Regions from separate parts of the Homo sapiens genome. Here region 2 is linked to region 1. Evidence: fine-mapped expression QTL. Tissue or cell type: whole blood. Region 1 holds a variant in brackets; the other region holds the start of a gene. All regions are shown on one strand. Distances are from middle to middle.

Evidence for each region. PIP is the estimated chance that this variant, and not a neighbour inherited with it, causes the effect.
Region 2: RHOU starts here. The variant in region 1 is fine-mapped to the expression of RHOU in whole blood (TOPMed, PIP 0.92).

Annotation. Positions count from the first base shown.
Region 1 is chr1:228,767,905-228,780,205 of GRCh38, reverse strand. It overlaps the pseudogene LOC100421842. Among named protein-coding and RNA genes, the nearest start is that of RHOU, 39 kb to the right of the region's middle. The variant G/A (reference allele first, on the strand shown) is at 5,470.
Region 2 is chr1:228,729,849-228,742,149 of GRCh38, reverse strand. It overlaps RHOU (ras homolog family member U), which reads right to left and starts at 6,671. Exons shown (of 3, transcript NM_021205.6): 1 at 6,146-6,671; 2 at 4,419-4,477. The coding sequence starts at 6,407.

The DNA of each region.
Region 1 (12,301 bases):
ATGCAGATTCTGGGGCCACACTCCAGACTTCCAGAATTAGGATCCCTTAGGAGTAGAGCCAAGGAATCTGCATTTTACAACCTCTCCAAGTGTGTCTTACACCTACTGAAGTTTGAGAACCACAAAATCTAGATTTTAGAGGGACCAACTTCTCCAATTTATGTCAGATAGGATTTGTGCTAAATGCTTCAGAAGCCCAGCGAAGCCTTGATTGAGATAAGACTGTCCCCTCAATGTCACTGCAGAGGCTTTCTCTAGTTATTTCTGTTCAAAAATGGCTCATATTTTTTGAGCAGTTAACATACCAGGTTAAACCCCAAATTAATCTTTCCAACAACCCCATGACATAAGTACAAGAAACTAAAGCTGAGAGAGGTTGAATGGCTTGCCCAAGGTCACACAGTTCATCACGGAGTTAAAATCACAACTAGATTCTGCCACATACAAATATAGGAAAGCTGGATCAGGTGGGTAGCCTGGCTTGGGTCAGCCTCCAGTGTCTGCAAATACACAGAATTCTGATTCCTAACTTCATACAGACAGCCCCTTAGCATAGAGCTTAAAGCAGGGGAACAACAGAGAGGGAAAGGATGGCCTCAGAAAGATGCTCATGTGGATAGTGTGAGTTCTAAGATCAGCAAAAGGGACTCAAGTCAATCTATGTGGGGATTCCAGCTGGGTTGGGCGCTAACTCTATCTCAAAGCTCTCAAACTGGGCTACCAGGCAGGGAGAAGTCAATGTCCAGTGATGTCTAGTAAATTTGATTAGGGTGGAGACCAAAATCAGGAAATTCAATTCAAATAACTGCCCCTGCCATTAAAATATTGCATGTTTTTAGCTGAATTATTCAGAATTTTCCAGATAATCACCCTACATTATTAATGACCTCAGTATATGTCACTTTTGGCTCTCAATACATATCTAAGCAACTCTTTCTCAGTAACCCTGTGATTCTGAGAGAAGAAAAAAGTGGACTCAAGGAAGTCCATGGGGAAACCTGGAAGGAAAGCATGAGCCAGCTCTGTTTGGCCTTACCCTTGGCTGTCCCAGGGAGAGTCATGCATCTGCTGTGTAATGCCACCAGCAGCCATGCATTATGCAAGTCTGACCTACATTATGGTATTGAGACATAACTGCTATAATAGCAGGCAAAGTTTAATGTTCCTTGAAATTTTTTAAGTTATATTTTTGTCAGAGAAATACATATATAAAGGTTTTTTGAAATTTTTTTCTCTTAAAAAAATGAGATGGGGCCAGAAGGCAGGGGTGGGCAGTGGTCATGCTATGTTGCCCAGATTGGTCTCGAACTCCTGGGATCAAGGAATCCTCTTGCCTCAGCCTCCTGAGTAGCTGAGACTAAAGGAACACTCCACCAAGCCCGGCTTTACATAAAGGTTTTTACATTCAAATATACCACAAGTCCTGGAAATTAAAAAAGAAGTTTCCTGACACCGTTTCCTCTACCCTGAATTCCAACCCCCAGAGGTGACTCTTTTGTGTTGTTTTGTTTTGGAGACAGAGTCTCAGTCTGTTGCCCAGGTTGGAGTGCAGTGGTGTGAAAACAGCTCATTCCTGGGTTCAAGCAATCCTCTTGCTTCAGCCTCTATGACTATTGGCACGTGCCACCATTCTCAGCTAATTTTTTTTTTTAGAGACCAGGGCAGGGGGAGGGGGGAGGGAGTGTCTCACCATGTTGCCCAGGCTGTCTTGAACTCCTGGCCTCAAGTGATCCTCCCATCTCAGCCTCCTGAAGTGCTGAGATTATAGTTGTGAGCCACCACATCTGGCCTCTTTTAGCTTTTCTTTGGAATTTTTAGGAATTTTCTTAGGAATTTTCCTTTGTATTTTTAAATGATACACTTATATGGTTGTGGGTTTTTTCTTCATTTTATAATTTTAAGCATCATCTACTGACTTCCTATTACATAAGATTGGAATCCAGCTCTTACATCAACATATCCCCCTTCCCACCCACTGCCTGTACTTCCTCACTCCCATCCTCTTAAAGTAGTTATGTCACAAGTTTTGGCTCAATCAATATGTAATGTTTACTTTATTTACAACCATGTGAATATGGCTCAAGGCTGAGCCACATAATATACTATAAATACATTTTGTTACTAGCACAACATTGTTTTTCCAGAGATAGTATGTTCTTTTCGTTTGTGCAGTTTTCTATGTACCTGTCACTTATTCCTAATCAAATTCTTCAAACAAAGCTACAAAATTCCTCTGAATAAAATATAGACAAAGGTATCAGATAATACACCTTTTTTTTTTTTCTTGGAAACATCCCTCCTGAAGCCTCCTATCTTCTTGACCCACCTGCACAGGCTGTTCCCCAGGCCTGGCCCACACACCTGGGGCTCCACCCAGCACAACCTGGGAACTCCCTGTGACTCTCTCCTGTGTGGGATCTGAATCCCAAATCATTTTTCTCAATTTATTTCTTCTTTTGATTAAGTTTATTAAGAAGTGTGCATGGAAAATACATGTTTTTTAGACCTTGCCTGTCTGAAATTGTCTTTGTCGTGCCATCTGACTATACCCAGTTAACTGCATATAGAATCCTAGGATAGATGTCATTTTCCCTCAGAAATTTGAAGGCCTGCTGCTCAGTTTCCGAGCTTCCAACAGGACTGTTGAAAAGTCCAATAGCATTTGAATTTTCATTCTCTGTATATGAGCTACGTTTTCCTCTGTGGAGCATTTTTAAATCTTTTTATCTCAGCCTCTGAGAACACATGCTGACATACCTTGCTGCTGGTGTTTTGCACTCATCGTGTGCTGGCATGTGGTAGATACACCCTGAGGCCTTGTGTCTTTCATTTCTGAAATTTTTACTTAAATGACATCTTTGACAAACTCTTCCCTCCATTTCCCTCGTTCTCACTTGGAATTCCTTTTAGTAGGATGTTGGGCCTTGTGGATAGACCATTTAATTTTGTCTTTTTCTCCTATTTTTAAAATGCCTTTGTATTTTTGTTCCAGTTCCTAGAAGATTTTCTCATCTTTATCCTACAGTATTTCTTTTTAATTTTTTTCCACATTAAATTTTGTTTTAATGGGCTGAAAATTCTGAGGCCAATTTTTGGTCACGTTGTTTCCATTTTAAAACATCTATTTTGAAATCTAAAAATTTAATATTACTGTGAAACAACTAGTCCACAAAACATTCTTTTCCTTTTGAAGCTTTTATGGTCCATTGTACCAGTAGCCGATGTTTTACCCTTGAACACAAATGACTCAAATTGTCCATCAGGACAAATGGTGCCGAGTCAATTCTGGGTCAGATTGAGACTAGGGCACAGATGTGGGATGGAATATTCTTTTAACCTCAGATTTCTGGATGGACATTTTGTCTTGCTGCCTCCATCAGCCTTCTTGTTAACTGTCTTCATGACACCCACAGCTGCAGACTCTGTCATATCTTGACAGCAAAACTATCTCAGGTCTGAGAAGCTCTTTATACTTGTGACCCTGGCAGGAACCACACCAACTGCAATATCATCACCAGACTTCCAGATGTTGTGCCTTTTCCAGCTTCTTGCCACATCAAACTTCTCCTTGCAAACAACGGAGCAGTGTGGCCACTCAGCCTGGGGGTTGGCCAACTCTGATTAGGCCTGGATGGCCCAGGGTTCTCATCTATGCAGCAAAGTTGGAAGCTTCCACAGCAGGGAGAAGCCATTCCTTCTGCAATGAACATCGCTGATGGACAGGTTTCTGATGCTGAAGTCTATGCTGTCATGAGGCAGAACTTTGCTGTAAGCAAAGCATTTCAATAGAAGTTGCCTCGGTCGTTGTTTTGACTTGGAAAAAGTGACCACCAGATCTGCACCTAGAGTACCAGTCACCACTTGACCCATGGGGACAGCACCAATTGTCCTGGAGGAGTGGACACCTCTGTCCTGTCGGTTTCACGCAGTCGGTTTCACGCAGTCGGTGGTGCACTCCCACAGCACCAGCATTCTCATGGTGATGTTAGCACACAGCTCCCGCATTTTGTCACCTGAAAGTGATGCCAATGCTACTGTGTGGGTTATGGTAACTTTTTTTTTTTTTTTTTTTGAGGCAGAGTCTCACTCTGTTGCCCAGGCTGGAGTGCAGTGACGCAATCTCGCTCACTGCAACCTCCATCTCCCGGATTCAAGCAATTCTCCTGCCTCAGCCTCCTGAGTAGCTGGGATTACAGGTGCATGCCATCATGCCCAGCAAATTTTTGTATTTTTAGTAGAGACAGGGTTTTATCATGTTGACCAGGCTGGTCTTGAAATCCTAGCCTCAAGTGATCCACCTGCTTTGGCCTCCCAAAGTGCTGGCATTCCAGGCGTGAGCCACCGTGCCGGGCCCTATGGCAACTTTTTAAAAACATACATGGGACTGCTTTGGTGGCTTCCTCATGTTTCTCCTGGCTCAGTGGAATCTGCTTTCTAACACCAGCAATGAATTGTTTCACACCCAAGATGTAAGACAAAGAGCACACTCTAGGTCTGCTAATGCTTTGCATTACCTGCTGCAAATTCTTCAGTGCCACAGCCACAATCAGGAGGGCCGGCCCCAGATGTGCGTGTGCTCATGTTTCGGGTAAAGTCTCTTCCGTATAGTGTTCTGAGATGTGGTAGGCCAAATAACAGCCCCCAGAGATGTCCATGCCCTGGTCCCTGGAACCCTTTACGTAATACAACAAAGGGTGCTTTGCAGATGTGGTTAAGGTTATAGATCTCAAGATGGGGCAATTATCCAGAATTAACTAGGAGGGCACAATCTATGAGCTCTTAAAAGTAGAGAACTGGCTGATGTCAGAGAGATGAGAAGACAGGAGAGATTCAAATCATGAGAGGGACTCCACTCACTGTTGCTCGCTTTGAAGATGGAGAAAGAGGCTAGAGTCAGGGAATGCGGGGGTGGCCTCTAGAAGCTGGGAATGACCCCGCTGATGTCAGCAAGGAAATAGGGACCTCAGTCCTACAATCACAGAGAACTGAATTCCACCAACAATCTGAATGCTCAAGGAAACAGATTCTCCCCTCTTGAGCCTCCAGAAAGGAATGCAGTCCTGCTGACACCTTGAGTGTAGTCCAGTAAGACCCATGGAGAACACATTTCAGATATCACATCTGTAGCTGGGCCCAGTGGCTCGTACCTGTAGTCCCAGCTCCTGAGGCAGGCGTTAGGGAAGAGGGGCTGAGGCAGGCAGGAGGATCACTTGAGCCCAGGAGTTTAAGTCCAGCCTGAGCAACATAGAAAGACCCTGTCCCTAAAATAAGAAAAAAAAACCACACACACAAAAGATAATACATTTGTGTTGTTTTAAGCCACGAAATTTGTGGTATTTTGTTACAGAAGTGATAGTGTGTCCGGAATTGGTGGGTTCTTGGTCTCACTGACTTCAAGAATGAAGCCGCGGACCCTCGCCGTGAGTGTTACAGTTCTTAAAGGCGGCGTGTCTGGAGTTTGTTCCTTCT[G/A]ATGTTCAGATGTGTTCGGAGTTTCTTCCTCCTGGTGGGTTCGTGGTCTCGCTGGCTCAGGAGTGAAACTGCAGACCTTCACAGTGAGTGTTACAGCTCATAAAAGCAGTGTGGACCCAAAGAGTGAGCAGTAGCAAGATTTACTGCAAAAAGCAAAAGAACAAAGCTTCCCCAGTGTGGAAAGCGATCTGAGTGGGTTGCCACTGCTGGCGCCTGCAGCCTGCTTTTATTCTCTTATCTGGCCCCACCCACATCCTGCTGATTGGCAGAGCCCAGTGGTCTGTTTTGACAGGGCGCTGATTGGTGCATTTACAATCCCTGAGCTAGATACAAAGGTTCTCCACGTCCCCATTAGATTAGTTAGATACAGAGTATGGACACAAAGGTTCTCCAAGGCCCCACCAGCGCAGCTAGATACAGAGTGTCCATTGGTGCACTCACAAACCCTGAGCTAAACACAGGGTGCTGATTGGTGTGTTTACAAACCTTGAGCTAGATACAGAGTGCCGATTGGTGTATTTACAATCCCTGAGCTAGACATAAAGGTTCTCCACGTCCCCACCAGACTCAGGAGCCCAGCTGGCTTCACCCAGTGGATCCCGCACCGGGGCTGCAGGTGGAGCTGCCTGCCAGTCCCACGCCATGCGCTCGCACTCCTCAGCCCTTGGGTAGTCGATGGGACTGGGCGCCGTGGAGCAGGGGGCGCCGCTCATCGGGGAGGCTCGGGCTGCACAGGAGCCCACGGAGGCGGGGGAAGGCTCAGACATGGCGGGCTGCAGTCCCGAGGCCTGCCCCGTGGGAAGGCAGCTAAGGCCCAGCGAGAAATCGGGTGCAGCGTCAGCGGGCTGGCACTGCTGGGGGACCCAGTACACCCTCCGCAGCCACTGGCCCGGGTGCTAAGTCCCTCATTGCCCGGGCCGGCAGGGCCGGCTGGCTGCTCCCAGTGCAGGGCCCGCCAAGCCCACGCCCACCCGGAACTCCAGCTGGCCCGCAAGCGCCGCGTGCCGCCCAGGTTCCCGCTCGCACCTTTCCCTCCACACCTCCCTGCAAGCTGAGGGAGCCGGCTCTGGCCTTGGCCAGCCCAGAAAGGGGCTCCCACAGTGCAGCGGTGGGCTGAAGGGCTCCTCAAGTGCCGCCAAAGTGGGAGCCCAGGCAGAGGAGGCGCCAAGAGCAAGCGAGGGCTGTGAGGACTGCCAGCACACTGTCACCTCTCAATAGGAGACGAATAATACACAAGGCATCCATGGTGGTCGCTGAGTACTTGCTGGTCTCAGACTCCCACATGGAGCCATCGGTGGGGATCCATGTTCCTGTTTAGCTGTTAATTTATGAACCAAGTGTGTTTGGAAGCCCTTTGCACATGAGGGTTTATGAGGACCCTCCCGGGTTTAACTGGCTTTTAAAAACTACAGACCTCTGATCTGGGTTTTCTCCTTACTAATCAGAGTACAGGATTCTGTGTGCCTTTCGCTTCTCCTCTATACTAGACTCAGCATCAAGAGGGCTCTGGCTTTGTCCATCTCCCCTGATTTTACCCACACATTACAATGGGTGAGCCCTGCCAGCAGGCAGTGAGGTGCAGGGGAGGGGAAGGGAGGGCACTGGACCCTCTTTAGAAGACAGGTGGGTCAAAAGCACTTAGTTCTCCAAGACCCACAGCATCTCAGGGGGTGGGGCCCTCACATCCCCCAAGCCTCCTTCACAGGTTGTTGTCAGGAAATTAAACGAGATCATTTATGTAAACATTCTCTCTCTCTAGCTTTCTCACTCTCTTGCTCTCTCTCGCCCTCTCTGTCTTGTGTGTGTGTGTGTGTGTGTGTGTGTGAATTCTCTTTTTATTTGTTTAAATTTTTAATGAAATGCAAACTATTTACAAAAAAAGTATACAACTTGCAATGACCTATTTCAGAGTGAATAAACTCAGTATCAAAAATAGAACATCTTCAGCACCCCCAGATGGCCCTTTCCTGCCCCCACATCACTACCCCCAACTCTAACCGCTATAACCACCCCCATCATTACTCCCAATTATAACCACTATAACCACCCCCCATCACTACCCCCGACTATAACCACTCTGGTCTTCTAATGCCACAGATTGGTTTTGTCTGTTTTTGTTTTGTTTTGTTTAGATAACTATTACATAAATAGAATAATAACATATAATCTTCTGGGCCTGGATTCTTTTGCTCAACTTCATGTTTGTGAGGTACATCCATGTTGTTGTGCATATCTGTCATTATTCTGAATGTTTTAAATACAAAACAATAGATAAAATTGGGCTTTCACTATACAGTTCAAATGCCATTTAGGATAATAATTTCTTCCACTTATCTTAAAAGCTACCAGCAGGAGCAATGAATTGTTTGTGTTTTAAACATATTCATGTAATAGATCTAAAATTCTTTACTTTCTGCAAAAGAAATGGCAAGGGAACCATGATTTGTCTGTATCATCATAGCCTGTCAAGTTCTCCAGGTGCCTAATGGGCTTTGTCTGAATGTCTCTTGCCTGCTTCCCTCCCACAAGTCCTGGGGAGGGCCCCTTTGCTCCAGGCAGTCCCTCCCACAAAGAAGCATCCCTGATTACCCTAAGAACAGACAGGAGAACCATAACAGTATCCAATCTTAGATGCTGTTTTTAATCTATATTTATATAGCTGCGAAAATTAGCAGGGCCATGCCATCCATCTCCAAGGGAAATATAAAGATTAAACCGAATAGGAACAGTGTAACTACCTGCTCACATCAGAGTCTACCATCCAGTATAGTTATGAGGTCACTAAAATTAATGAAACTTTTCTTTAGCTAATGAAATAGCCTGTGGCGAGATCAAATACCAATGAAATTTATTAACTTCTAATCTAGGGAGCGGGAGAGCCAAATCAAATTTTACATGCTAATGTTTTCTGAAACAAAGCAAAATCAAAAGCCTCAGCAAAAAGAAATGAGACATTTGGAAGCTTATCAGTAGGCTGCCAACATTGCCTTTCTCTTTTTTTTTTTTTTTTTTTGAGACGGAGTCTCGTTCTGTTGCCCAGGCTGGAGTGCAGTGGCGCAATCTTGGCTCGCTGCAAGCTCCGCCTCCCGGGTTCACGCCATTCTCTGCCTCAGCCTCCTGAGTAGCTGGGACTACAGGCGCCCGCCACCACGCCCTGCTAATTTTTTGTATTTGTAGTAGAGACGAGGTTTCACTGTGTTAGCCAGGATGGTCTCCATCTCCTGACCTCGTGATCCACCCATCTTGGCCTCCCAAAGTGCTGGGATTACAGGCATGAGCCACCGCGCCCGGCCTGCCTTTCTCTTTACCCTCACATCATGCACTGTGCCTAACTGTTGTACCTTGTCGTGTTCTGTGTTAGGAAAGGAATCCCACGGACACTATAAAAAATTCTGTAAAGGAGTAAAGTGCCTAGGACAGATATAATTATTACCTAGCTGGCAATTCATGAGAATAGCAGACAGGTTTTCAGCAGAGAGAAGGCAGATTGATGGCAGCTTGGATGAGCGCAATTCACAGATGCTGTGTTGGATATCCAGGAGCAGGACGCCGGCAGCCAGCACTTTCCCCAAACATTTGTTACTTCATTACCTAATTTCTACTCACCTTTTATTATATTTGCTCTAGAAGTCAATGCACTCTTGTAGCAATGACTCCAACTCAGTGACTCTTTTGTAAAACAAATTCCAATCAGTGGCAATATTTGAAGAAATGAGAATGTAATGATACTGACTACAGACCTGACACTAGAGAAACACGAGACTCTCTCCCAGGGGCATAGCAACACACACTGGGGCCCGCTGGTCCCACAAACTGGTAATTTAGCCCAGCAGATGCAACAAGGCCACTTGGAAACACCAAACTGCATGATCTTGGCTCCTGGCCCAGCTGCTAATTTGTTGAAGGCAGAAGTGACCCTGCGAGCCATTCAAAGGTGTATGTTACTTTGAGAGGAGAAGTGGAAATATAGACTATAAACTGCTCCAAGAAAAAAAAATCAGATGAGAGAGAAGGAAAACTTCTATGCTGTGACAGTTTATTTGTAAACAAAACATCTAAACATATGACTCTGGGAGCTCCCTTTCTTGTGGATCTCAACCACAGATAGTGTACAAGAGATAAGTATATTTTGGAGTTAAAACTGACAGCTTCCATCTCACACCTTTGGACCTCTTTTTATTATTGTTTTCCATTCCAGAATGTTCATGGTAATTTGAATGAACATGGGTTCTGGCTTTCAGATTTTGATTTCTGATGTCTGCCACCATCCCTCCTGAGCACTGTCACCAGATTCCTCTGTGGAGAACAAGGCAACCTGCACCCTTCCACTGACACAGTGGAATCTCTCCACTCGGAGAAGCGCAAGCTTCTCTGCCAAGCACACAGGACCCTTCGCAACCCAACACCACATCTCCCTCCAGTTTCCTTAGTACACCCTCACATAAACCCTTTAGCCTAGCCAGCCAGGCCCCTTGCTGTGTCCCCTGCAGATCATGCATGGTTCTAGGTCTGTTCCATTCCACCCTCCTCACTAGCCTCAATTCTACTGCGTTCTGATAACCTTTTGTAACGCAGATGTTATTCTCTCTGTCCACGGCGCTCCTGGGGCCAGGCAGGCAGTGTAGAAGCATGATACACAAAAAAGGACTTTGTGTTTTAGGGTGTTCCAGGGATCAGACTGGACCAAGGGAGACAGTCACCCAGGATGAGTAAAGAAAAAAATCGAAATCCTAGCCAACGAGTCACACGAGGGCACAGGAGTCTGAGAAGTGGCACTAAGCTTCAGGTCCAAAGGGTGGAAGAAGGCACAGCCACAAATCCCCTAGACACACGGTGGGACTGCACACTGCCACCGTCTGCCACATGGGTTAGGTGTGGCCACAGGTCAATGAAATTGGAAGTGGTAATCCTGAATAAATATTATTTCTCTTTGCTGTTTTGCTTTGTTTTACAGAATATTGGTGCATACCATTTCACTTGATTTCCTTTCTCCGTCTAACTACAGTTGAAAAATTTATTTAGTATTTGGTCACTCCTGGCCACAAGGTATAGACTTCCTTTATTTTCATAATCTCATGATATTGAGTGACAGTATTTGAGAGGAAGAATCTGGTGTGAGCAAGGAGCTCCGAGTTCTTGGGTTAATTCTGTGAGTGGAAATGGCATGCACCTCTTTTTTGTTTAATTTATATAAACACTTTTCTTAAGAATACTTTGATTTGAAGAAAAGTTGCGAGGATAGCATATGGAGTTTCCACATGCCCCTCCCCCAGTTTCTCCTACTAGTAACACCTTACATTTTCTGGCTACCTTTGTCATAGTTAAGGAACCAACTTTGGTGCATTAACTAAAGTGCACATGTTACTCAGATTTCACTAGGTTTCCCCTAAGGTCCGTTTTCTGTCCGGGGTCCCATCCAGGACATCACATTGCATTTGTTTGTCATCTTTTTTTTTAGCCTCCTCTGGGCTGTGGCAGTTTCTCAGACTTTCCTCATTTTCGATGACTTTGACAGTTTTGAGGAATCCAGGGCAGGTATTTTGTAGAATATACTTCAATTTGCGTTTGTCTGATGTTTTCACCATGATTATCAGACTGAGGGTATGGGGTTGGGGTGGGAAGACCACAGAGGAGAGACGCCCTTCTCATCACATCCCATTAAGATCCTGCTACCAATATGTCTCATCACAGATGCGTGTAGACCTTGGTCACTGGGCCGACGTGGTGTTTGCCTGGCTTCCCCATTGCGAAGGCCCCCCGCTTTATGAGGGGAGTACAGTAGGGCACAGCGCATTCTGAGGGCTGGACAGTTAACCCATGCTGCCTTTGTATCTGTCATCTGGAATCCTTCCACACAGGAGGTGTGTCTCTCGGCGCTTGGGCCTCTCTGGGATGAAAGTTTTAAGTGCACACGAAGGCTTTGCCAAGCTCTCTCTTCCTGATGCCATGATGACTATGAACAGCAGCTCCGTGGCCTGGATCCAGAGGGAGGACAATGACACCGTGATGTATAATGTGAACAAGAAATAAATCTTTACTGTTTGAGCCATTGAGACTTTGGGATATTTTTTATGGCACCATAACTTACCTTCTCCAAGGAAGGGTAAAGCAAGGTTATATTCTCAAGGGCAGTAGTCAGGAGGGTGGGGGCCATGAAAGGGACAGTGTGTCTATTAATGGTTTACGACTAACGCTGGAACACAGCCATACGTGGGAGGTCTGCTCTGATATGACGTGGCCTCCACAGACTGGGGTCCAGATGGCACTAAACCCTCTTCCAGAGTGCAGCTTCTCCTTCCAGATCTCTCCTAATCACTGCAACACACATTAGTTTTATCACACTTCAAATCTAAAATAAAATCATCTCCCCTCAATCATAGCCAGTGCCTCCTCCTGACTTTGTATTTCTGCCCCTGGTGCAGTTATCTTCCCTTTCCTGGCTTAAAATCTTAGTGTGATTGTTGAGCACAGCTTCTGCTGTGGTCAATCATTTCTAGAGATTCCACCCACAATGTGACATTGGCACTCACCTTTTCATTCCCATGCCCCCCTCTCTCGAGCTCAGAGCCTCCTCCCCTTCTGTCTACACCACGGTGACAGATCCTGACTAATCTCCTGCTCTCTCTTCACCCTTCTCTTCTCCTCCAGGTATCTGTTTCTAAACTGAAGACCAGATCAGTTCTTTTTTCTATGTAAACTACCTTCTTGTTCTACCACTGGTCTTCCATAGTCTGGTCCTTCCTCATCTATCTGTCCAGTCTTATTTCCCATGAGTCTTTCACCTCAATTCCACACGTCAGATATCCCTGTTAGATCTGTTTTCCACGTACTT
Region 2 (12,301 bases), 38 kb after region 1:
TGGTGCCAACCATCCTCAGGTATAAATAATTTCCCAATGACAAGAAAAAGTTCAACGCCATTCATGTTTTTCATTACTCAATTGACACACTCCGATTATTTACCAAGTACCATTTACATCACATTATACTCCATCCGTGGCTTTTTTCTCTTGGTATAAAAGAAACCTGTAACTTATTTGAATGTACTTTCTTCATTTGAGGCCCCATGTTTCAATTACGGGACGACAGCCAACCAACTAATCACATTAAAGTCAACCAGCTAAAATGCTCAGCAATCAATGTGGTATTTCAGAATGTCACTTGTGAGGCTTCTGTAAGCGAAAGTTGAAAAAGTATGACTTAGCCAAATGTGGTGGCACGTGCCTATAGTCACAGTTACTTGGGAAGCTGAGGCAGGGGGATCACTTGAGCCCTGGAGTTTGAGACCAGCCTGGGTGACATACCAAGACCCTGCTCTCTAAAAAAAATTTTTAAAAAGAAAAATAATGACTTAAGTTTCTTCATGCCAACTTTGTGATGAATAAATAAACACAGAAACACAGCCAGGTAGACTATGGCTCAGTCATGAAGATCTTTTAATGGAATGCTCCCTCTGTTCTTAGAGGGCCTCAAAGAAAGAAGCATAAAACTGAGACCAGTATTAAGGCAGCCCCCTCAGGTAGCTGCACCCCTGGCCATGCCCTGGTATCTGGGGTTGCATTACTGAGAAAAATAAAGGCAAGCACAAGGGCTGGGACTTCTGAGGGGGCTTTGGAAAGCTATCTCCCCAGATCTCTTGAGATTCTGGCTAAGGGGCTTGAGAAATAAAACAGAAATTAGACCCTCCTGCTCAGTGCCTGACCTGAAATCTTAGAAATAATGCAATACACACGTGCAATGAGGACAACTGGAATGCACCCTTAAGAAAAGGCGTTCTGAGGCCAAGCAATTTGCATGTGCTTGCCAGGTCTGTGGTACGGACACTGCACAGAAGTCTGATCAGGGTTGGCGGGGCAGAGAGACGAGACTGGATTCTACATCCCTCTGGTCTAGCTGCAACTTGATTTTTTTTTTTCAGTATAAGATTTTTCCAAGTACTTTATGGGTCAAAAGGCTGAAGAATTTTCAGCTTCTATTGGCAACTCTCCAGTGAACTACTCCTATTTCCGCAATACTTTTTTCTCTTATGCCAAAGGTATGTTTTTTCAAGCCTCCAGTCTGTCTCTGATCAATCTGCCCTTGAGTGATGTAAGACCAGTGTTAAAAACTCCTTTTGACATCTTATAGACTCGCCTACCCTCCCTAACAAGAAAAGCCAAAGTACAAGAAGTGATTTCTTCAGCATGTAGAGCCATCCATACTCTGCTCCCATCAACTTCTGTGGGAAACCCACACTCCAGCTCCACATCCCCAAGTTCTAGCCTATCTGTGCTCACGTTGATTCTCCAGGCATCTGAAGTGGAGGTCAGTGGAGTCACTTAACCCTCAAGGCTCTTATGTCAACTGCCTAGAAGAGGTATGTGTTCCTTCCTCCATAAGGAAACTTGGCAGGTATCACAGCAAGTCCCTTAAAATGTATTTTATCAGATCAGGACTAGGGAGAGTAGAAAAGAACTGCCACTTTGACCAGCTTGGCTAGTAGTCTAAACAAAGACTAATTTATAAATGGGGGATCAGGAAAACAAAAACAGAACAACTGACTTATCTTACCAGCAGCTTATTTTTCATAGTTTTTGAAGATGGTTCTTCTTCAAAAGTTTTGAAGTTGGTTCTAAAAGTCTACAAATTTTTAGATAGTGGTCTTATTCATTATTTAATTGGGTATACTCTTCTAACCAGTACACAAAGGTTAAGAAATACAGTAAATCTCATTGAAAATATTGCTAAGAGGCCAGAAGAATAATTTTCAAATAAACTGAAACTTACAAATGTAGCACCAAAACCTTCGTTTTTCCCTAATTATAAACTTTTTTGTGCAAAAATACTACTAAAGTGATGCTTGTGCTTCCCTGATTTTTAAACAGGAACAATTTAACTCTTCCTTGATGATTCAGTCATTTATGCAAAGTTCTTCTGGTAAAATTCCTATTTGTCTTTCAAAACTCTGCTCAGAGGTTTTCCTGCCAGGCCCAACCAGCCTGCACCTCTAAGCCCGAACCTCTTTTCTTCCCTTTGCTTGCTCCTTCACGAGCTTCCATTTGTCTTCCCTCCACACTGTAAGTCTATTAAGGGGCAGGCCCACAACTTATGTTTATACCCCCACCACCTGGTCCTTCTCTGGTTCATCCATTCTAAAACCACGAGATTAAGCCCTGCTATGTGCCAGGCACTATGCTGGGCACTGGGCATGAAACCCCAGCTCAAGAAGCTGCATCCTGCTTGAAGAGCCAACACTTACGGGGAGCCCAGTGGACAGTGATATTTGAGTGACATCCTGGGGCAGGTAGGTGCACTGAGCTTCTGCTCCAGCCCGTAAGGCTCCCTGCTAACTGTGCCTTTGGACTTCCTGTATTTTCCTGACTTCCATCTTATCCTCAGGGTCTGACTTCAGCAGGTCCGATGGCTATGTTTACTGACATGTTCCTCTGCCTGTGTTTTATTTTTTTTGAGATGGAATCTCTCTCTGTCAACCAGGCTGCAGGGCAGTGACGCGATCTCAGCCCACTGCAACCTCCGCCTCCCAGGTTCAAGCAACTGTCTGCCTCAGGCTCCTGAGTAGCTGCTATTACAGGCGCCCGGCACCACACCCAGCTAATTTTTGTATTTTTAGTAGAGACGGGGTTTCACCATCTTGGCCAGGCTGGTCTTGAACTCCTGACCTCATGATCCACCCGTCTCAGCCTCCCAAAGTGCTGGGATTACAGGCGTGAGCAACCGCGCCTGGCTGGCCATGTTTTAAAACTCAGAAAACCTGACCCCCTGGTAGACAAAGCATCCTCACTTCATACAAGGAAATGAAGCTTGAATTATAAATATCACCATTGCATTCAGAAAGATTCAGTGCTAGAAGTGACTGTATTCTTTGATTTTTCTTTTTTTTTACCCCCAAGAGATGGGATCTTGCTCTGTCGCCCAGGCTGGAGTGCAGTGGCACCATCATAGCTCACTACAGCCTCAAACTCCTGGGTTCAAGCGATCCTCTCACCTCAGCCTCCTGAGTGGCTGGTGGCTGGGACTACAGACAGTGCCACCACACCAGGCTAATTTTTTTATTTTGTAGAGATGATGTCTTGCTATGCTACCCAGGCTGGTCTCAAATTCCTGGCCTCATGCAATCCTCCCACCTCAGCCTCCCAAAGAGCATGAGCCACCACACCCAGCCTGATTTTTGTTTTCTACAGACAATACAATACGGACAGTGCTTGGTTTTTCCAAGCTGAAGTGCTCCCAAGCTATGGCCTGCACCAGCCCGGTGTTCCTTGGAGATCAAGGCTCCACGGTCTTATGTCATCTTCAGGTTTAAAAAATAAGATCTGTCCTTAGCTCTGAATCTGCTGTCCCAGAGTAGGTGAGCAACTTGGAAGCTCTGGCGTAGATGAGGCTCTGGGGGGCAGTGGAAAGCCAGTGCCTTCATAAACACAGATAGTCATGTGATGGCACCTCAGAAAGTGAAGGGGGCACTTTCACCTGCCTACAAAGTACCCCCGGAACTTTGCTGAACTCTAGAACATACTAGAGAGACAAGTTCATTAACTATCACTTTGCCAAAATCAAGTACCCCTGGGTGTTCACAAGGCACAGCCTGACTTCAATGACTCGAGTACCCACCAATGGGGGCTTCTTCTGGGGAACACAAAGAGGGAACCCTACACTCCCTGGCTATTTCCTCCAAGGGCCCAGCCCTCGAGACAAGAACCAGCGTTCACAGTTTGGATAGAATAAGCCCAGTTAGTTCATCCCTCCAGCTTAGGACTGCTCTGACAAATGTATCTGTGCTTCAAGTGATGGGGCTGGTCCTAGCGAGTCAAACCATAGCTCAGGAAGGGAAATATTAACCCTTACTGATGTAAATTCCATCTTTTTCTTGAGCAAATTTCTTCAATATCTGACTCACTGGCCTTTAATAAAACGATTATAAGACATCACTAACTTAGTTTGGGAAATGATGACAAAGCATCACTGAAATTTTTTCATAAAAACCAGGGAGTAAGTAATAGAAACTCCTACAAGAGCTGTTCTTGACACTGCTTCCTCCCTTGCCTGGTTACGCAGAGCTGGGCCAAACCCTGCTTTATTAGTTTGGAGGTATCTTCCTCTGCTTCCTGCCGGCCAATAACCTGGCCCCTGCCCACCCTCAGAGAAGGGCCAACAGCAGGGGTGGGTCCACTTCATGAGGCTTTAGAATGACCCAGTTACTGACTGAGGGAATCAAAGGTTATTTGGAAATCTTTAAAAGGCTGTTTCCTTTCCCAGCACTGAGCTGTAACGTGATACTGACCTGTCCGGCAGTGTCACAGAGTTGGAGTCTCACGGGCCGCCCATCCACAGACACCACCGCTTAAAAACAAAACCAAAATGACAATCAGGAGGTGTCTTTTAACCCCTTTCGGAATACTAATAGTTTTAGCTTTCACTATCATTCTCACTCCAAACCCCTTTGCTCCTATTTTAGGTCCTCTAATGAATTAAAGACTAGCCAAAAACAAGGAGGCCCTGTGGAGGCATTTTTGTATACAAACCCACGGCTGGCAAGTCACTCCATTACCGTGAACCAGGCAGCAAATCCCTGAACGCTTTGATGGTGACCCTAAAAAGGCCTATGCTTTTCTCCCAGTCCTGGAAGATTTATTTTCCTGTCACACTTGTTTCAAAGGACCTAAAAACAACACTGGGGGTAAATGGGAAGCAACCCTGCAGTTTTAAATCAGTGGAAAACCTCACAAATAATTCTGTTTTCCCTTGGGAAAGGTTCCCCAACTTCAGGGTTTATCATACAATTCTAGTGTGTTTTGAGAACATGTGCAAACACAGGCTGCCCGCATTGTCCTGTTTAAGAAATGAGGGCACTCCTTATCTCTATGTCAGGTCAAAAGGAGGATTAAAAAAGAAAAAAGAAAGCCATGGCCCCCTTTCCACTGGGATCCGGGGACTCGGGGAGTGTGGAGAGGCCTGCAGCAGGACATGTTGTGGAGGTTTCTATTTTAATTAAGCAGTCAGTTTTGTCTCTTTCTACACAACTTTCTAATTGTTTCTAAATATTTATACTAGTCAGCTGCAGGGGTGGGGTGGGGGGAGGGGAAGAAACAATACCCTGCGGTGGGAACCCACCAGTACAGCACCCATTTCTCTAAGGTACCTTTGGGATGAAAGGAAGGTCAGAGAAGCAATTTTTTTTTAAAGAAGCAAGACAGTTAAGTGTTTCATACTAGTTTCTGTGAATTTTAACTTTTTCTTAAATTTCAAAAAGACCTGAATAGCAAGATAGAGAATTCCTTTCTCTTTGTATCTACCAAGGGAAATGGCATCGCACCCGGTACATAGGAGCTTTAAGTAGCTTAAAGGGATCCTGAAAAGATACCAACAATCAGAATCCGAGCCCATGTGGGCAGGGAAGGTGGTGGGGCTCAGAAGAAAGAAATGGTGTTTACTCTTCAGGTTTCATCCAAACCTAAGCCTTCACGAGGGCCGCTCGCGCTTTTTCACTAAATCAAGTGTTTTCCCGGCGTCTCCGCGGCTCTTTAAAGCGGAGACGCCCCTTGTGAGCTGAGCCGCCTAAAAGCAAAGGAGCGACGCTCAGGTAAAGGCACCTGCGCGTCACCTTCTGATTGAAACTCTGCAGCGGCGCCAGCGACGTCGCCCTCAGGAAACTTTGCTCTATGCAACAAACTGACCGGGCACCCTGAACTCAACCTGTTTCACTCCTACTTATCTGTTGCTTAAATTGTGAGATTTTTTTTTTTTTTTTTTTTGGCAAGGCTCTGACTGCCGCTCCGCCCTCCTCTCTCCAAGCCCACTCCGCCGTGGTCCTTTCGTGTTAGCTCCGCGCTTGCCCGGTCCCTGAGACTCAGGAAACGTCCTGCACTCCTCATTTGTCCGGCTTCCCAGCTGGAGCCGCGCCCGGGGCCCTGCAGCCCCCTTGGGAACCTCGCGACCCTCGCGCCACCTTCCTTCCCCTGGGTGGACCGCGGCCACGCGCCCCCGGCCCCGGCCCCCCGGCCAGCTCACCGGAGAAGTTGTCGAAGGCAGTAGGGATGTACTCGGTGGGGTAGCCGTTGGTGGTGTAGCTCACCACCAGGCTCGTCTTGCCCACCGCGCCGTCGCCGACCAGCACGCACTTGACGCCGCGCCCCTCGGCACCCCCCGCACGCCCCCGGCCCCCCGGCTCCCCAGGCCCGCGTCCCCCGCGTCCACCGCGCTCCCGACGCGGCGGCACCGGAGGCGCCTCGCAGCGGTCGGGGAACGCGGGGTCCCCCTGCTGCGGGGGCATCGATCCGCGAGCGCGGGCTTGCGGTCGCGGGCTAGCAGGGCCCGGCCCGACCGCCCCTCCGCCCCGGAGGGTTGCGGTAGGGAGGAGCTGTCACCGACAGCTGCGGGCGCGTCCCCGGCCCTGGAGAGTGGCGGTTCCGGGCCGCACGGCCAGTAGACAAAGGCGGCCAGGGAGGGTCGTGGCTCCGCGCTCCGGCGGCGCCAGCCGCTCTGCCCTGCGCTGTTGGAGGACAGCGGTCCGAGCGCCGTGGATCCCAAGCGCTCTGTCTCCGCCCGGCTTCCCGGCGACACGACGCGTGGGGGGCGGGCAGGCGGGCGGGCTGGCGGGGAGGGAAAAGAGGCGGGTCTGGCCGAGCGGCTCGGTCCCCGCGCCAAGACCACAGCGCCCCCCGCCTGCGCGCCGCGCGCCTGCACCCGCGCCCGAGGCGCCGCCGCGACCAGGCGGGGACTGCGAACACTGGCGCGGGAGGACCTGGAACACACGTTCCGGGGGACCCCGCGCACCCGGTCCGGGAAGCGACGCCCGAAGGAGCCGGGCCAGCCTCCGCAGCCTCCTCCCCAGCTCCCAAGAGGGTGACCACCGCGCGACTGGCCCGGGAGGTTCCGCTTTCTGGCGCCCACGCGAGCCAGGAAGCCTGAGCCGCCTCCTATTCACTCCGTGGAGCCCCCGGCTGGCCACGGCTCCACCCAGGGGGAAAAATGAAGTGTCCTGGAGGCCTGTCCTGCGAATGAGATTGAATTAACAGACAGCTTTTTTCCTTAAGTCTAACTGCAGCTGATCGTGTGATTTTTTCTCATTTTGAAGCAAAAGGATGCCAGCTCCATTGTGAATGCTCCTTTGACTTTGTCTTTCGGCATGCCGTGAACCTTTATACATGTATGCTCCAGAAATTTTTTTATACCCCCAATTCCTTCATTTACTTAAAGGTAATTCGGAGACATTAATATGTCTGAAAAAATATTCCGTTTCCCTTTGATTCATTTCTCTCTCTGCCTTCCTTCTACATGTGGTCAACAGTCTATTCAGAAAAAGGACGCCTCTTAGCCAAGTCAGAATACCAAGAGTCCTGGGGGTGTACAGCGTGGTGTGAGAAGGGCCACATATTATTAATACACATTGATACTAGTGGTAGTAAAAATAACAATAACAAATACTGAACTTTCATAATGTGTCAGATACTGTTGTAAGCACTCTTCAAGAACTAATTCTTTTAATCTTAACATTACTTACAGATGAGAACACCTGAGGCACAGAGATATTAAGTAACGTTTTGGGATTCCACAAGCTAGTAAGTGGCAATGCCAGGATCCAAACCCAAATAGTCTAGCCCCAGAGCCTGAGCTTCTAACCAAAATCCTGGAGGCAAAAATAAGTCAGTATGATAAACGTAATCTTGAACGTATGGCCATGGTCAGAATGCAGAGATGGATTTATCAAGAAGTTAGAAGCTTGAATCCAGGACCCCTGACTTGCAAAGGACACTTTCACATTGGAAGACCTAGCAATGTGTACACGTGGTAATATGTTTCTGTAAATTTTGAAAAAAAAAAAAGTATTTTAATCACCACCAGTTATGTTCACTGTCTTTTTAAACTGTAACTTACCCTCATATTGAGTGACTTTGAAGAGGCCATGAAGATTTTGGGGATCAGCCAAAGAAAGTGAAGTTGGGGAGACCCAAACAGGTTGTTTGGGTGTAATGGGATACAGAATCAGGATGAAGGTGAGATAAGGGGGATGTCAAGGATGCAAAATTTATGACAAATTGAGCATTCAGAGGCAATATCAAAAAACAACAAATTTAGAGGGCCCTTACTCTCAGGGTCAGGCAAGTGCCAATGTTAAGTTTTGAGCCTCAGGTACCTGACTTGCCTCTCCCTCGCCCTGGCTGTGATGACAGGATATATTTATGTGGTTTACAGTTCTCCTATGTAGATATGTTGTTGCTAGCCATCCAGGTATAGGAATGGCTACCACTGACATACCTATGACCCTCTGTGAGAGTCACATTGGTGCCCTTAACTGTCTTACTTTCCCCAACACTAGAAGGGTTCCAGTAGCAAGAGTAGCAGAGCTTGAGATGGGCAGAGCTGGAAGCTAGTCTGGCAATTCTTTCCATCATAAAGCACCTAATATCGGCTGGTGCGGTGGCTCACGCCTGTAATCCCAACACTTTGGGGGGCTGAAGCAGTCAGACCGGTTGAGGCCACGAGTTCGAGACCAGCTTGGCCAACATGGCGAAACCCTGTCTCTACCAAAAATAAAAAAATTAGCCAGGTGTGGTGACTCACACCTGTAATCCAAATACTCCAGAGGCTGAGGTAGGAGGATCACTTGAGCCTGGGAAGTCGAGGCTCCAGTGAGCCCTTGATCAACCAATATACTCTAGCCTGGGCGAGAGTGAGACACTGTCTCAAAAAGAAACAAACAGAAGAAAACACAACATTGTTAGAGAAGGTTTGGTTCTCTCTACTAAACCTGATCAAAACAGAAGTTGTCTGCTGTCAGAAATGTACCTGTACTCTAAATGCAGCAGATACACTTACAAATGCATCATACATTTTTGGAGAAAAATCACATGAAATGAATGATCTGAATTCCCATGTTTGTAAGGACATGAGGCTGTAGTAGTACAACAAAAAGCAAGTTCACCTGTGTGTGAAGTAACTTCCTATTGTTCTTATAGAAAATATCTTACAAAACTGAAGAAGTGATCAAAGGGTATGCAACTGAAAAATGAAAATAATGTCATAGAAGTGTGTCAAGCAGTTTATTAAAATGTCATGTCTTATGTATTTTGTTTAAGTTTATGGTGTTTGTTAGCCTTTTAAAATTTGTAACTTATTGTGATGCATTTCTCACTTTAAACATTTGTTTTTGTATCTAATTTTCTATTCTTAATTTTGTATTTTTTTTTCTTAATGAAGTCTCACAAATGTGATAAGCCTCAGGCCCTACAAAACTTGGCTTTGCCCCTCCATCTGGCCAGCTGTCAGTTTTTGTGTCCTGTGCGTCCCCCTCTTGCTTTTCCCCTTCTCATGCTGAATATCATCCCACGCCCACTCATTTGGGCCCGTTTTTCTGGACACAACTTAGTCAGCTCCCTGCATCCTTATCTAAAATGCCGGGAACTAATGTTTGCCCTATTCATGAGACTCTTCTGTAGGCAACATAGGAAATCAGACCCCACGCCAAACAGTTCGGTATTTCATCCAAGTCCAAAAGCAGAGAGATGACAGAATGCCTACCACTTTACCCCTTTACAGAATGCCTTTACTTTACCCCTTTTTACGTTGAACTGTCCCGCACCCACTCATTTGGGTCCATGTTTCTGGGCTCGACTTAATCAGTCCCCTACAGCCTTATCTAAAATGCTTGGAACTAATGCTACAAGAAGCCCTCCAAGGTGTGTGGGTTCAAGTTGTATGATATATTTGTTTGTTTATTTGCTTATTGTCTGTCTCCTCTTACAAGCTCCATGAAATCAGAAACTTAATGTTGCTCATTCCTATATCCCACACTTAGAAGCACGTGGGGCAAGTAGTAGGTGCTTAATAAATACTTAAGCAGTGGTAAATACGTAAGTGAAAGGAAAACATGTTTTGAACTTGACGGTTCTGCAAAAAAGAAAGAAAGAAAAGGAGAAGAATGTAAAACATGGACTCTCAAAACATGGACAGTTGTATTTTTATGCTTTTATAAAATATTTTTAGAATGAATGAAGGAAATTTGACCACTTCTTGCAGCTATTAATAGAAAACCATGTCTTTGCTCAGTTTTAAGACAAAAAATGCATTACACCTCATGTATTCCCATTTGTTTTTCACCAAGACAGTACAACGCCTTCATTGTGCAGTGGGCCTAGAAAATTCTGAAAACTGGGTGCAGAATTTCCGTTCTTAAGATCTTGTCTCTCTGAGGCCCTCCAGCCCAGCTGTGAGCATTCATCCCCCCTACCTACCCCCAACACCTCCTCCAGGACTTCCAGCAACCCACCCCTGGGTCCCCAACAACATGTCAGAGAAGGTGTCTTCTCCTCGAACTACAGGTCTGTAACCCCTTCCTCCTTCTTCCATGAACTTGCTCTTTCTCCGCTTAGGTGTCACCTCCTCCAAGGATGTTTATTTTTCTGCCTAATTTTCTATACTTAATTTTGTGTTCTTTTTCTTAATGAAGTCCTCAAAATGTGATAAGCTTCAGGCCCGACAAAACTTGGCTTTGCTTCTCCATCTGGCCATCTGTTCGTTTTTGTGTTCCATAGCCTCCCTCTCTTGCTTTACCCCTTTTTATGTTGAACTGTCCCACACCCACTCATTTGGGCCCATCTTTCTGGGCTCAACTGAATCAGTCCCCTACAGCCTTATCTAAAATGCTCAGAACTAACGCTTGCCCTATTCATAAGAATCTTCTACAGGCAACGTAGGAAAGCAGACCTCCACACCAAACAAATTGGTGTTTCATCCAAGTCCAGAAATGTTCCCTGACCCCTTATGTGGATATATTTGTGCTTGTCCCTATCACAGCCCTTATCTAGTGAAATCATCTACTGATTATACAACACCTACCCTTGCTCATAATCCCCTAAAAGGGAGGATCCCCAGTTCACAAAACTCTTCCCCTAGCACAGTATTAATACATTTTCTAGGATTTTTTCCATCAAGTTATTTTAACTGTTCCACTAGCAAATAATTAATAGTGAATTTGTAGTTTTTTACTAAAATGGTAAAAAGAAAAAAAGGTCCTAATAGACTTTCCACTGTGTACATGTCACTTTTGTATCTTTTGATATATTTAAGAAATAAATAAATTTTTATCTGCTCAACATATTCCTTGCCAGGTGTCATTGTCATCATCATATTAAATATAAAGCTGTTTTTCCTGCTATTGATAACATTTCACCATTTACTGAGTACCAAATCAGAACAGCACGGTTTTTTTGGATCTTTCATTTTAGCAGGTCATATAACTCTGTGTGTTCATTCACTCTTTAAATGGTAACCCTTTGCCTTGGACACATTAATCTGATTTCTTTCCTTCAGCAGTGCCCTAGTTTTTTCAATACCCTATAAGAGGACATCAGAAGAATATTTCTCTAGAACTGGAGACTCTAAGCTGGGTTGTCTATTGCCAGCATGGCTGTCTGCTCCCAGAATTTCCTTCTTTGTATGGTTCTCGGCTAAAGTTGTCCGGAGACATGATTCTCAGAATTGAGAAGACTGAAGGGAAGTGGAGGAGGGTCATATGGTCAAACATGCCAGTGGATGGACACAGCGGTGCCCAGCACATCCTCACTAGCCTCCTGCTTTGCAGTGATATCATCTCACTGCTGGCTCTGCTGACCCAGAGCAGCCTTCAGCCCTCACCCAGCCCCTGGGCCCCAAAGAGGCTGCAGTCCCTACACCTCATGCCTCAAGCTTCCCTTCCACAGCCTCCAAGGGCCATATCTGCATAACTTACTATTGGCTTTTCTCCAAGTTCCCACCAGTATCCTGCACAAGGGTTTCAGCTGGTCAGGGTTAGGCACTGTTTCCCTCTGAACTTCCCCAGCAATTCCCAAACTTGTGAAAGCTCTCCTTCCTTAACCCTGTACCTTGGAGTGGCTCTGATTTCCTGACTGGGCCCTGACCAATAGTTTCTTGTTTACCACTGGGGATGTCATCCTAGGAAAAAAAAATGACAAGGAAAATGTCTTGCCATGTTTCACTAGAAAAGATGGGGAAATCATATAAATGTCACCAAACCACCAAATGGGCCACCAGTGGCTCCTTTCAGGAATCACAAACATCAGTTAGTGTCATGGTAAGGGCTCAGACCACATGGTTGGTTGGATGTGCTGATACTAGTTTCCCTGCCTCCAGAAGTCCTTTTATCACCTGCCATCACCTTGTAGATAA